Linked DNA regions of Homo sapiens: regions 1, 2 and 3 are each linked to region 4. The links come from fine-mapping of genetic effects on plasma protein levels. A gene starts in region 4. Each other region holds a variant in brackets. All regions are shown on one strand. Distances are between the middles of the regions. Region 1 overlaps CTSB (cathepsin B). Region 2 overlaps CTSB (cathepsin B). Region 3 overlaps FDFT1 (farnesyl-diphosphate farnesyltransferase 1). Region 4 holds the start of CTSB (cathepsin B).

The links. PIP is the chance, under the fine-mapping model, that this variant and not a neighbour inherited with it causes the effect. Protein levels are from antibody-based Olink assays in UK Biobank. Linkage for the fine-mapping came from a reference panel and not from the study's own genotypes, which makes the PIPs less certain.
Region 1: its variant is fine-mapped to the plasma level of the CTSB protein (UK Biobank, PIP above 0.99).
Region 2: its variant is fine-mapped to the plasma level of the CTSB protein (UK Biobank, PIP above 0.99). The variant lies in the coding sequence of CTSB. If it changes the protein, the assay may bind it differently, which can mimic a change of level.
Region 3: its variant is fine-mapped to the plasma level of the CTSB protein (UK Biobank, PIP above 0.99).

What each region holds. Positions count from the first base shown.
Region 1 is chr8:11,843,180-11,845,923 of GRCh38, forward strand. CTSB (cathepsin B) reads right to left here. Exons shown (of 10, transcript NM_001908.5): 9 at 2,482-2,610; 10 at 1-2,043. The coding sequence ends at 1,946. Among named protein-coding and RNA genes, the nearest start is that of CTSB, 24 kb to the right of the region's middle. The variant G/C (reference allele first, on the strand shown) is at 1,434.
Region 2 is chr8:11,849,642-11,852,385 of GRCh38, forward strand. CTSB (cathepsin B) reads right to left here. Exons shown (of 10, transcript NM_001908.5): 4 at 1,225-1,339. Among named protein-coding and RNA genes, the nearest start is that of CTSB, 17 kb to the right of the region's middle. RefSeq lists a silencer at 108-290. The variant G/A (reference allele first, on the strand shown) is at 1,271.
Region 3 is chr8:11,829,451-11,832,194 of GRCh38, forward strand. FDFT1 (farnesyl-diphosphate farnesyltransferase 1) reads left to right here. Exons shown (of 8, transcript NM_004462.5): 6 at 794-970; 7 at 2,068-2,220. Among named protein-coding and RNA genes, the nearest start is that of FDFT1, 28 kb to the left of the region's middle. The variant A/C (reference allele first, on the strand shown) is at 1,526.
Region 4 is chr8:11,866,870-11,869,369 of GRCh38, forward strand. CTSB (cathepsin B) reads right to left here and starts at 1,218. Exons shown (of 10, transcript NM_001908.5): 1 at 1,132-1,218. RefSeq lists an enhancer at 482-691 and silencers at 782-1,111, 1,252-1,371.

The DNA of each region.
Region 1 (2,744 bases), 24 kb before region 4:
CTTGTCATCCTCCCACCTTGGCCTCCCAAAGTGCTGGGATTACAGGCGTGAGCCACGACGGCCGGCTGTTATGCTCATCATGGCACTTAAGAGATGCTTAACAAACCTTTCCTACAATGTTCCTCAGATTTTCAGAGCTTATTTGATCTAGCATCTGGTTCCTAAATTCTGAGTCACATCAGAAGCCAAACTTGAATGCTTTTGGAAAGAGCTAGCCTCATACCACTTCAGTTGGGAAGGGGAGTACTGAGGTGTACCTTGGCAGGACAGTGGAATGATTGCTGGTTCTTCTAGTTTGCTCTATACCAAGAACTGCTATAACATGTTTCTAAACCAGGGCTATGCAAAGCACTAGAGTTCCTGACCAGCAATGCAAACCAGTGGCATACAAATTCAAAATACTGTATACAGGCCCTGACTCCAGCCCAAACCAAGGCTGGAGGGCATCCAGGGGGATGTGGTTCCCCACGGGGTAGCATCTTGGTTATGTGAGATCACCAAGACACCAAGCCTGTTTTATGAGCTGAATCCTCAGCTTGTTGCTGGATTTGTGGCTGATAAAAAATACAGGCAGGGCCCAGTGGCTCACGCCTGTAATCCCAACACTTTGGGAGGCTGAGGCAGGCAGACCACCTGAGGCCGGGAGTTTGAAACTAGCCTGGCCAACATGGTGAAATCCTGTATGTACTTAAAAATACAAAAATTACCCAGGCATATTGGTGAGTGCCTGTCATCCCAGCTACTCGGAAGGCTGAAGCAGGAGAATCGCTTGAATCTAGGAGGCTGCAGGTTGCAGTGAGCTGAGAAGGCGCCACTGCACTCCAGCCTGGGAGACGGAATCTCACTCTGTCAGTCACAACAACAACAAAAAAATAGAGCACAGCTATGTTTTGAGTTCTTAAGCAAGGGCAAGCTTACCAGGCACTTACAGAGAAGGTTGACGAGGATGACAGGGAACTAATTGGGGGAGGGATGCCATGGTTGAAAACATGGCTGGGGCAGCGAGAAGTTAAGATGAAGTCCCAAGAGTCGCAAGAACATGCAGTTCCAGGACGTGATTCTCTGCAGGGACAAAGAGAGACAGCAGCTACAAGTCTATAGGCAGTGACAAAGGATCTGAGATCCCATCAGAGTAGACTTCAAGTTGGAGAAAACTTTTATTGGCACAGGCATTCCTTGTTAACTTGACAGGGTGAAGCTGTAATTTTTCAAAAACAGTAAAAGCTGGTTTCTCCTAAACTATTTTCCTTGTGGTAGTAGAGATCAGTGGGTCAGAAACAACTCCTGACCACTTGGTTTCCTTTTGAGCCGCGTCATAAGGAGGCAATCTGTAAAACTAGCACAGGTCTCCCGCTGTTCCACTGGCTCACCCACATGATTAGCAGAGTGCACGAAAAAATAAAACTTCTATTAAAGAATCATGCTGAGCACAA[G/C]ATCAGAGAGGTTGTGACATTGCAAACTCGATAGATGCAGGGGGCCTGGGAGACTGGCGTTCTCCAAAGGGCTCCCAACACCGTCTCTCCTCTGATTTCTGTGACAAATGTGGAAAGCTACTTGCTTGGAGGTACTGGGGGAACTGATGGGGGAACTTTCATCCTGTTAGGAACTCCGCTTTCCATTCCTGCGTCTCTGTCTTGCTCCCTGGAGATGGATGGATCACGGAGGGGGCCACAGTCAGCTGGGGCAGCAGGTACTCCCTACGGCACTAGTCTACAGGGGGAAGGACGCTCTGTGCTGGCAGCGGTGGCTCACATGGCCTGTCTGCACTGTAACCACAGGCTGGGATGTAGCCAGGACTTGGTCTCCTTGGAAGACAGGTCTGATGTTTGGCCAATCCAGTCCTTCAGACCCTGTCTGAAACTTGTATCTTACGTGAACTTAAAGAATAAAATGCATTTCTACCCCGATCTCGCCCCCAGGACTGGCACGACAGGCCCACGGCAGATTAGATCTTTTCCCAGTACTGATCGGTGCGTGGAATTCCAGCCACCACTTCTGATTCGATTCCACAGTGATCCTGTCCTCTGAGTATTTTAAAGAAGCCTGGGAATAAAAAGTAAGGTGCTTTTAAAGTGTGACAAGGGTCAACCAATATAGTCAGACTCATCCTTAAAAGACCTTAAGTCACTCATCCCTGGCCACTCCTGCTGTTGGCCCACTAGCACAGTCCTCAACACCACAAGGCTTCTGGAGCCGTGGGGCACACCTCCACGGGCAAGCCCCCTGCCCGGTCACCCTTCCCATCACAGGATCTGGCGCGATGCTGTGGGAACTGTTGCAGGCGTTGGCTCTGAAGCTGCTCAGAGTCTGCCCTCACAGCAAAAGGGAACTCCTGACTGCCTGGCACTTAGGAGGAGCTCACAGCCTGGCCGTAGGTCCAGGGTTTAAGGCTGTGCGGTGGGTAGAACAGAGAAAGCCGAGATGGCCACGGGGTGTGGCTCACAATTCACTGTTCTTGGCAGGAAGGGGGCAGCCACTCACCATTGTCACCCCAGTCAGTGTTCCAGGAGTTGGCAACCAGCCAGTAGGGTGTGCCATTCTCCACTCCCCAGCCCAGGATGCGGATGGCATGGCCACCCATCATCTCTCCGGTGACGTGTTGGTACACTCCTGAAAAGGGAAGAACTGGCTGAGACCGAGACCGGGCCACTGTCCCACGCCCCACAGCACCCCCCACACTCAGCTGGTCATGCTCCGGGAAGGAGAAACAGCTTCCAGAGGGAACCTGCTGCTCCACCAGGAGG
Region 2 (2,744 bases), 17 kb before region 4:
GCAATCTCAGCTCACTGCAACCTACGCCTCCTGGGTTCAAGCAATTCTCCTGCCTCAGCCTCTATAGTAGCTGGGATTATAGGTGCCTGCCACCAGGCCCAGCTAAGTTTTGTCTTTTTAGTAGAGACAGGGTTTCACCATGTTGGCCAGGTTGGTCTCAAACTCCTGACCTCAGGTGATCCGCCTGCCTCAGCCTCCCAAAGTGTTGAGATTACAGGCGTGAGCTACCGTACCTGGCTGTGTTTTTTTCTTAACAAAAAACACAGCTCACCCAGAAAATAAATACTGTTGTGATCCACTTGTATGAGGTCCCTAGGAGTCAAATTCATAGAGACAGAAAGTAGAGTGGGGCTTACCAGGGGCTACAATATTGGTGTTAATGGGGACAGAGTTTCTGTCTTGCGAGCTGAAAAAGAGTTCGGGGGACAGATGGTGGTGGTGGCTGAGCAACACTGTGAATGTACTTAATGCTACAGAACTGTACACTTGAAAATAGTTGCTGGGCACGGTGGCTCACGCCTGTAATCCCAGCATTTTGCGAGGCCGAGGAAGGCAGATCAACAGGTGAGGCGTTTGAGACCAGGCTGTCCAACATGGCAAAACCCCATCTCTACTAAAAATACAAAAATTAGCTGGGCGTGGTGGCACATGCCTGTAGTCTTAGCTACTGGGGAGACTGAGGCAGGAGAATTGCTTGAACCCAGGAGGCAGAGGTTGCAGTGAGCCAATATCCCACCACTGCACTCCAGCCTGGGTGACAGAGCAAGACTCCATCTCCAAAAAAAAAAAAAAAAAAAAAAGAAAGAAAAAGAAAACAAAAGAAGATTGCTAAGATTATTACATTTCTGTTACGTGTATTTTACCACAATTAAATGACAAAATTAAGACAGCTCACTGACACTAAAGGGATGCTTTCTTGAAGCAGAGTAGCAGTGAGAGCTCCTGGTATTTGCGGACGGGCCAGCATGTCAGGGAAAGGGAGCTGCTTCGCCACCTGTACACGTGGACTTGCAATCTGCTGGATGCTCTGCCCGCCACTCCACCTAATCCTCGCCATCATTCATGGCCAGAGGGATTGTGATTTTTGTACTGATGGAAACTGGGACTCAGAAAGTTTCTATAACTTGCCTTGTCAGAGTTGTCCCCACCCCGAATCCCCCAAGACTCTCCAGTGTTGCTCCCACTTTCTCTCCAGCGCTTCCCCGCCAGCCAGCAGGGCCTTACCCAGCAGGAGCCACAGGAGCCCTGGTCTCTGATCTCTTTGATGGTG[G/A]GACACTGTGGCCATTGTTCCCGTGCATCGAAGCTTGCAGGCAGCTTCAGGTCCTCGGTAAACATAACTCTGGATAAAGGAAGGTCTTCATTACAAGCTCTGATCCCACAACTCCCTCCCCAATCCCTGCAAAGGCCACTTTGGCTGGGCCACACTCCCCTAACAAGGAAATGAGCACAAGACATGCCGAAGAAGGCTGCAGACAGGTGTCCTTGGTAATTTCATAAAACAAAAGGAAATTCTGTTGCTCAATGCACCTTTTGATTTTTTTTTTGGGTGGGACGGGAGGGTGGGAGTGGACAGAATTTCACTGTGTCATCCAGGCTGGAGTGCAGTGGCGAGATCTCTGCCCACTGCAACCTCTGCCTCCTGAGTTCAATCGATTCTCGTGCCTCAGCCTCCTGAGTAGCTGGGATTACAGGCATGCACCACCACACCCGGCTAATTTTTGTATTTTTAGTAAAGACAGGGTTTCACCATGTTGGCCAGGCTGGTCTTAAACTCCTGGCTTCAAATGATCTGCCTGCCTTGGCCTCCCAAAGTGCTGGGATTACAGGCATGATCCACCACACCTGGCCTGACTTGCGATATTGTACGCTTCTTTCTAGGCTTATGTAATGGATTTTTTAAGATGAATTTATCCACAAATTATAAACTCATTTTTAAATAAGTTTATTCAGTCCAGATAGTGTTTCTTGCCCTGCTCTCCTGCCTCAACCTCTGCCCAGGATCCTCTCATCATTTCTCATATCATCCCCATTGTGCAGAAGGCAGTGTCGTGCAACTTAACTACCCCATCCTCACGTGGGAAGTGGCATCATCTCAGCTCACCGCAACCTCTGCCTCCCGGGTTCATGCGATTCTCTAGCCTCAGCCTCCCGAGTAGCTGGGATTACAGGCGCCCGCCACCACGCCTGGCAAAGTTTTTTATTTTTAGTAGAGACGGGGTTTCATCATGTTGGTCAGACTGGTCTCGAACTCCTGACCTCAGGTGATCCGCTTGCCTTGGCATCCCAAAGTGCTGGGATTACAGGCGTGAGCCACCATACTTGGCCTCATCTGGCTTTTCTTAGATTTCCCTTAAATTACTCAAGATTGAGTCTGCCCACATAGTGGGGACCCAGACCTTGTCTGTCACATCTGCGGCTGAGACACCTTGGAGAAGCACAATAGAAAACACTGGGGGTGGCTCATGCCGGTAATCCCAGCACTCTGGGATGCCGAGTTGGGCAGATGACTTGCTGAGGCCAAGAGTTCGAGACGAGCCTGGCCAGTATGGCGAAACCCAGTCTCTACTAAAAATACAAATATTAGCCGTGCACGGTGGTGCAAGCCTGTGGCCCCAGCTACTCAGGAGGCTGTGGCATGAGAATCGCTTGAACCCGGGAGACAGAGTTTGCAGTGAGCCAAGATCGTGCCACTGCACTCCAGCCTGGGTGACAGAGTGAGACTCTCTCAAAAACCAAAAAAAAGC
Region 3 (2,744 bases), 37 kb before region 4:
AGCTCATTTCCCAGCTATGCCTTTCAGCAGCTTTCTTACCAGAGTAGGAATATAATGTTAGTCATTATTTAGAGGCCTGGCCATCTTGAGAAGGTTTACTGTTTAGTCTGCAGTACAATTATAACTGTTTTTGTATATTGGGTTATTTTTTTCAGAAGTAGGCCAGTAGCTCTAACAGGAGCCTCTTTAGCCTGAATTCGTCCAAGTAGTGCAGTGTTGCACTAGTTGTCCCTCGGGACATGCTCCCCAATACGTAACTCACTTCCAGGTTGCAACTGGACACTTACTGGTAGTCAGAAATAGCTATTGCATGGAGCTTAAAATGAACTTGATCTTCGTGAAAGATGAGTCTGCAGCTAAGAGACTTTACTGTATATCATAGTGTTTTTTTTTGTTTTGTTTTGTTTTTGTTTTTGTGACGGAGTCTCACTCTTTCACCCAGGCTGGAGTGCAATGGCGAGATCTTGACTCACTGCAACCTCCGCCCCCTAGGTTCAAGCAATTCTTCTGTCTCACCCTCCTGAGTAGCTGGGATTACAGGCGCCTGCCACCGTACCCGGCTAGTTTTTGTATTTTTAGTAGACACAGGGTTTCACCACCTTGGCCAGGCTGGTCTTGAACTCCTGACCTCGTGATCCACCCTCCTCGGCCTCCCAAAGTGCTGGGATTACAGGCGTGAGCCACGGCGCCCAGCCTGTATCATAGTTCTTATGCACAAAGACCCTTTAATATTGTTTGTAAATTCTCCCCTATGCACACGCTGACCTGTTCCTTAATCTTCTTATCTGTCTAGGTTTGGAGCAGGTATGTTAAGAAGTTAGGGGATTTTGCTAAGCCGGAGAATATTGACTTGGCCGTGCAGTGCCTGAATGAACTTATAACCAATGCACTGCACCACATCCCAGATGTCATCACCTACCTTTCGAGACTCAGAAACCAGAGTGTGTTTAACTTCTGTGCTATTCCACAGGTAGGGAAGGGGGCTCCTCTGGGTGGATACGGGGCTAAAGGGAGTGGGGTAGGAGTAAGGGTGGATTTTGCTGTGCTATATTCAAGGATATGATTCCTTAAAAAGACGATGACTCCAGTTTATTACGCTGGGAGTTTCATAGCACCCGCCTTTGCTTCCAGCCACCAAACTCAGCTCAGCCTTGAGGTTAAGCCTGCTCCTTTTCAGAACCTTCTTTCTGGATTTACTATTTTCTACAGCTATCCTAAACTAGTTAGGTTCTTTTCCTCACAGTTAAGTCAAGGTCTTTGGCTTAGATTTATGGGGAGTGCTGGGTAAAACCTGGGTGAAGCTGTTATCATTAAAAAGTCTTCATTAAGCACCTAATTACTGCTGTCCTTTTCCTAGACCCGGCATAAAAAGAACCTGGTCCGGTAGACCTAGCCTCTCAGTATGCTAGGAACTTACACTTTTTAGTTGCCTTTACCAAGTATTGCAGATACTACTGCAAATAAGTGAAGAAAGTAACAGCATTTAACTGATTTGGGAACTTGGTTTGATCTTGTTCTAATGACC[A/C]ACTTCGAATGGTGGTTGAAAGTAAAATCTGTATCGCCGTCTTATGTTTCCATTTACCTAGAAATACTTTACCTTTGAGCACAGGAAATTAATCCCCTTCTGGTTGTTCTCCCCCTGGCATTGGTTTTAAATATATAATGATTATGTTTGTTGTAGGAAAAATAGAAAAACAACTACAATAGAAAATTCTTCCCATATATTATTTTGAAATACATATTTCCGATCCGATAATCCATTGCTCTAGCATGGAAAATGTTGGATTTACTTGTGTTTGCTTTTTCCAAATAAAATGGAACTTTTGTGGCTACATTATAGAATTGTTTTAGACTGCTTAATTCTGTGTGTTGTTGAGAAAGGGAGGAGTGGGGAAGGTAAAAATCTTGACATACTTTCTTCGTGGGTATTTTTTCTTGAGCGATTCCATCTTAGTTGATTAGCAGTTAGCAATTGCCCATTCAACAGAAGGTTTTCTTACCTTTTTGTGATAATGATAGCTAACGACATCATTTCTTCTTTTTTCCCTCTCTTCTTGTTGTCTCTAGGTGATGGCCATTGCCACTTTGGCTGCCTGTTATAATAACCAGCAGGTGTTCAAAGGGGCAGTGAAGATTCGGAAAGGGCAAGCAGTGACCCTGATGATGGATGCCACCAATATGCCAGCTGTCAAAGCCATCATATATCAGTATATGGAAGAGGTGGGTTTTTATTTAACTACTTGGATAATTTGTAGCTACTTTTATGATTTAGTAATGTCACTGTTTAACCAGGTTTGGATATTAGATGATCCTAACAATTCACTATCCTGTGGCCTAAAGAGACAGGAATTGATATCCTTTATAAGGAAAAAAGTCTATTCACAGGAGCCGAGCAGATTGCTCACTGCTGTGTAGTACCCTGGTGAGAGGAGATAAATGGAGCAAGGCTGTAGGTTGGAGCCCCTCAGTAGAATCATAGATTTTGAGCTGCAAGATGATGCAGGAGGCCAACCAAGCTTCTTGTTGCTGGTGAGGAATGTGAGGTTGAAGCTTGTCTGTGCTGATGCAGTGCGTGATTGAGTGGATCTCTGGCTCCCGTCCATGTGTCCTGACACCCAGTCTGGTACTTTCATTATGCCACAGGCCTCAATTGAAAAATCACAGTAGGGAATTTAGGCCAAGGAAAGCCATCAAGTTGCAATTATTTCCTAAATTTTCTTTGGAAAATTTCATTTCAAATACCA
Region 4 (2,500 bases):
TTCGCCTTACGTTCCTGAACGTTTGGATTCAAAGAGAGTGCATCTCAGCTATCCTCTCCTCCGGCAGCAGGCAGTGGGAATGTTTTTCCAGGCTACAAAAAGGTGCCAGGTCTGCATTTGAACCCCACAGCGTCACTTCTCCAGTGGGTTTGGGGGGTCTCTCGTCCGTTAGGAGGAGGAGTGTGGGGCCTGCGCTAGGGTCCTTTTCTTTGCCAGCCTGCTGGCTTTCTCAGCGCCTGGGAAGGGGGTGACAGAGGCCCACCAGGAAGCCAAGTGCAATTCACTTCCACCTGGGTCGCCCACCCCAGCCTGCCTGCAACGCCCCACACCCAGCACCCACTGCTCCCCAGAGGCCAACTCCCCCCGGCCTCCAGGGCTACTAACCGAGGGGGAGGTGGCGCCCCAGGGACTCTGCCCGGCCTCCCTTTACTGGAGTCCAGGAGCAGGGTGCGCCCCCGGCCTTCTCCCCACCGGCATCCAATCGCCCATTCGCCTCTTGGTTTCGCTGTCTGGTTTCTCTTCCTGTTTATGGATTTAACACCGTGCGGCTTCCTCCCCAGCCCACCCAGTGCCAGATTCCTGTTCTTCAACAGGACCTGTCTTCTGGGGTCCCAGGAATTGCGTGGGATCTTGCGCAGAAAGTTGGCCAGGCAAATCCTTCGCAATGAGGGGGAAATAAACCGAAAATAGATGCCGGCAGATGCGATTATGTCGGCAGTTTGGCCCGGAGACACCGAGGCCCAGGCGCTGGGAGCGCGGTCCCAGGCAGCAGTCTCCGGACCCGGCCGAGCTCTTCCTCGCAGGCGCCTCCCTCGGCGGTCCTGGCCGCGTCCCCGCTCCGAGGGCCGGGGTCCGGCGCACAGCCCGGGGAGGGGAGCGGAGGGCAGAGGGCTGGCGGGCGGAGCTGTTTTCTGCTTTTCTCGCCGACGCTTCGGAGCGCGCGGACTCCCACCCCAGCCCGCCCGTCAGGGACAGTCCCGAGGGTCCCGGCTCCCCGCCGGCCCCCAGGGACGCCGCGGGGCCGCGCCTGGGCCCGACTGAGGGCGCAGAGGAACCCGTCTCGGCGGCCGGGTAGCACCGTCCCCGCCAAGGTCACTTACGCTGCGGTGGCCCCGGGTCCCCAGCACTCACCCAGCGCTGCAGCCGAGAGCCTGCAGCCCAGCCTGCGCGCAGCGGAGCGGTTGGCGTTGCCGGAGCGGTTGCCGGAGCCCTGCAGCCGCCGTAGCCTGGGCCAGCCCCGGCCCTAAGTACCCTCCCGGCCCCGCCCCACGTGACCACCGCGCAGCCCCGCCCGGGCCCTCCCGCCGCCCGCGCACGGTGCTTCCCAGCCCCCACCCCCTCCCGCCACCTTCCGCCGCCCGCGCTCCCCGCTTCCCGGCCCCGCACACCCCCCGCCCCCTTCCGCTCGGGGTCCGGGGCCACCGCCGGGGGCGGGCGGGGGCCTGAGCGCGCGGGCTGGGGAAGAAGGGCTTGGAGCCCTGCGGGCCCTGGGTGGCGAAACGCTGCGAATTGGGGCCAGGGGATGGGGAAAAAGCCCCTAAAGGTGGTCCCAAGGCCCCCACCCCGCCTAGAAAAGTCCCCCCGCCTCGCGGGACCGCCTCCGCCAGAACCCGCGCCTGGGATCCCTGCCTGCCGAGTTGGCGGGGGTGGGGTGGTGGAGAGGGCGCCGTCGCTTATTTCATTCATTCAGAAGCCGCTGCAGAGGCTGGGGGTGGCGAGGCTGTGGACCCCACAGAACAGCCTTTAGAAGGGCCACTTTGTTGTTCAGAGAACGTACCCACAAAACACTACAGCTACGTACAAATAGAAAAGAGTGGCTGTCACTGCGAAGGAACCTAGGAGCTGCGTCAGGATTTCTAAGAGGAGAAGGACCTTGGGGGCGGAAATCGGTTTGGCACAGGAGTACCCGGAGACCTGCTCCGAGAGGACGGACAAAGTGCACATTTACTTGGGGTTTATTACCGGGAGGCCCTGGAAGGGAGATGCAGGGGTTGGCTCAAGACTCACCCTCCTCCAGACACTCCCCAAACAGCTTTAATCCTTAAGACAAACCTGCAAAGCAGGCATGACCCCAGTTGTATTCAAGAGGCTCAGAGGGGCTGGGTTCGGTGGCTCACGCCTGTAATCCCAGCATTTTGGGAGGCCGAGGCCGGTGAGTCACCTGAGGTCGGGAGTTCGAGACCATCCTGACCAACATGGAGAAACCCCGTCTCTACTAAAAATACAAAACTAGCCGGGCGTGGTGGCGCGTGTCAGTAATCCCAGCTACTCGGGAGACTGAAGCAGGAGAATCGCTTGAACCCGGGAGGCGGAGGTTGCGGTGACCAGAGATCGCACTATTGCACTCCAGCCTAGGCAACAAGAGTGAAACTCTGTATTAAAAAAAAAAAAAAGGCTCAGAAGAATCGTATTTTATCCAGGCTGTGGCGACAGTAAGAAGGCAGTAGCCGGGTGCAGTGGCTCACGCCTGTAATCCCAGCACTTTGGGAGGCCGAGGCGG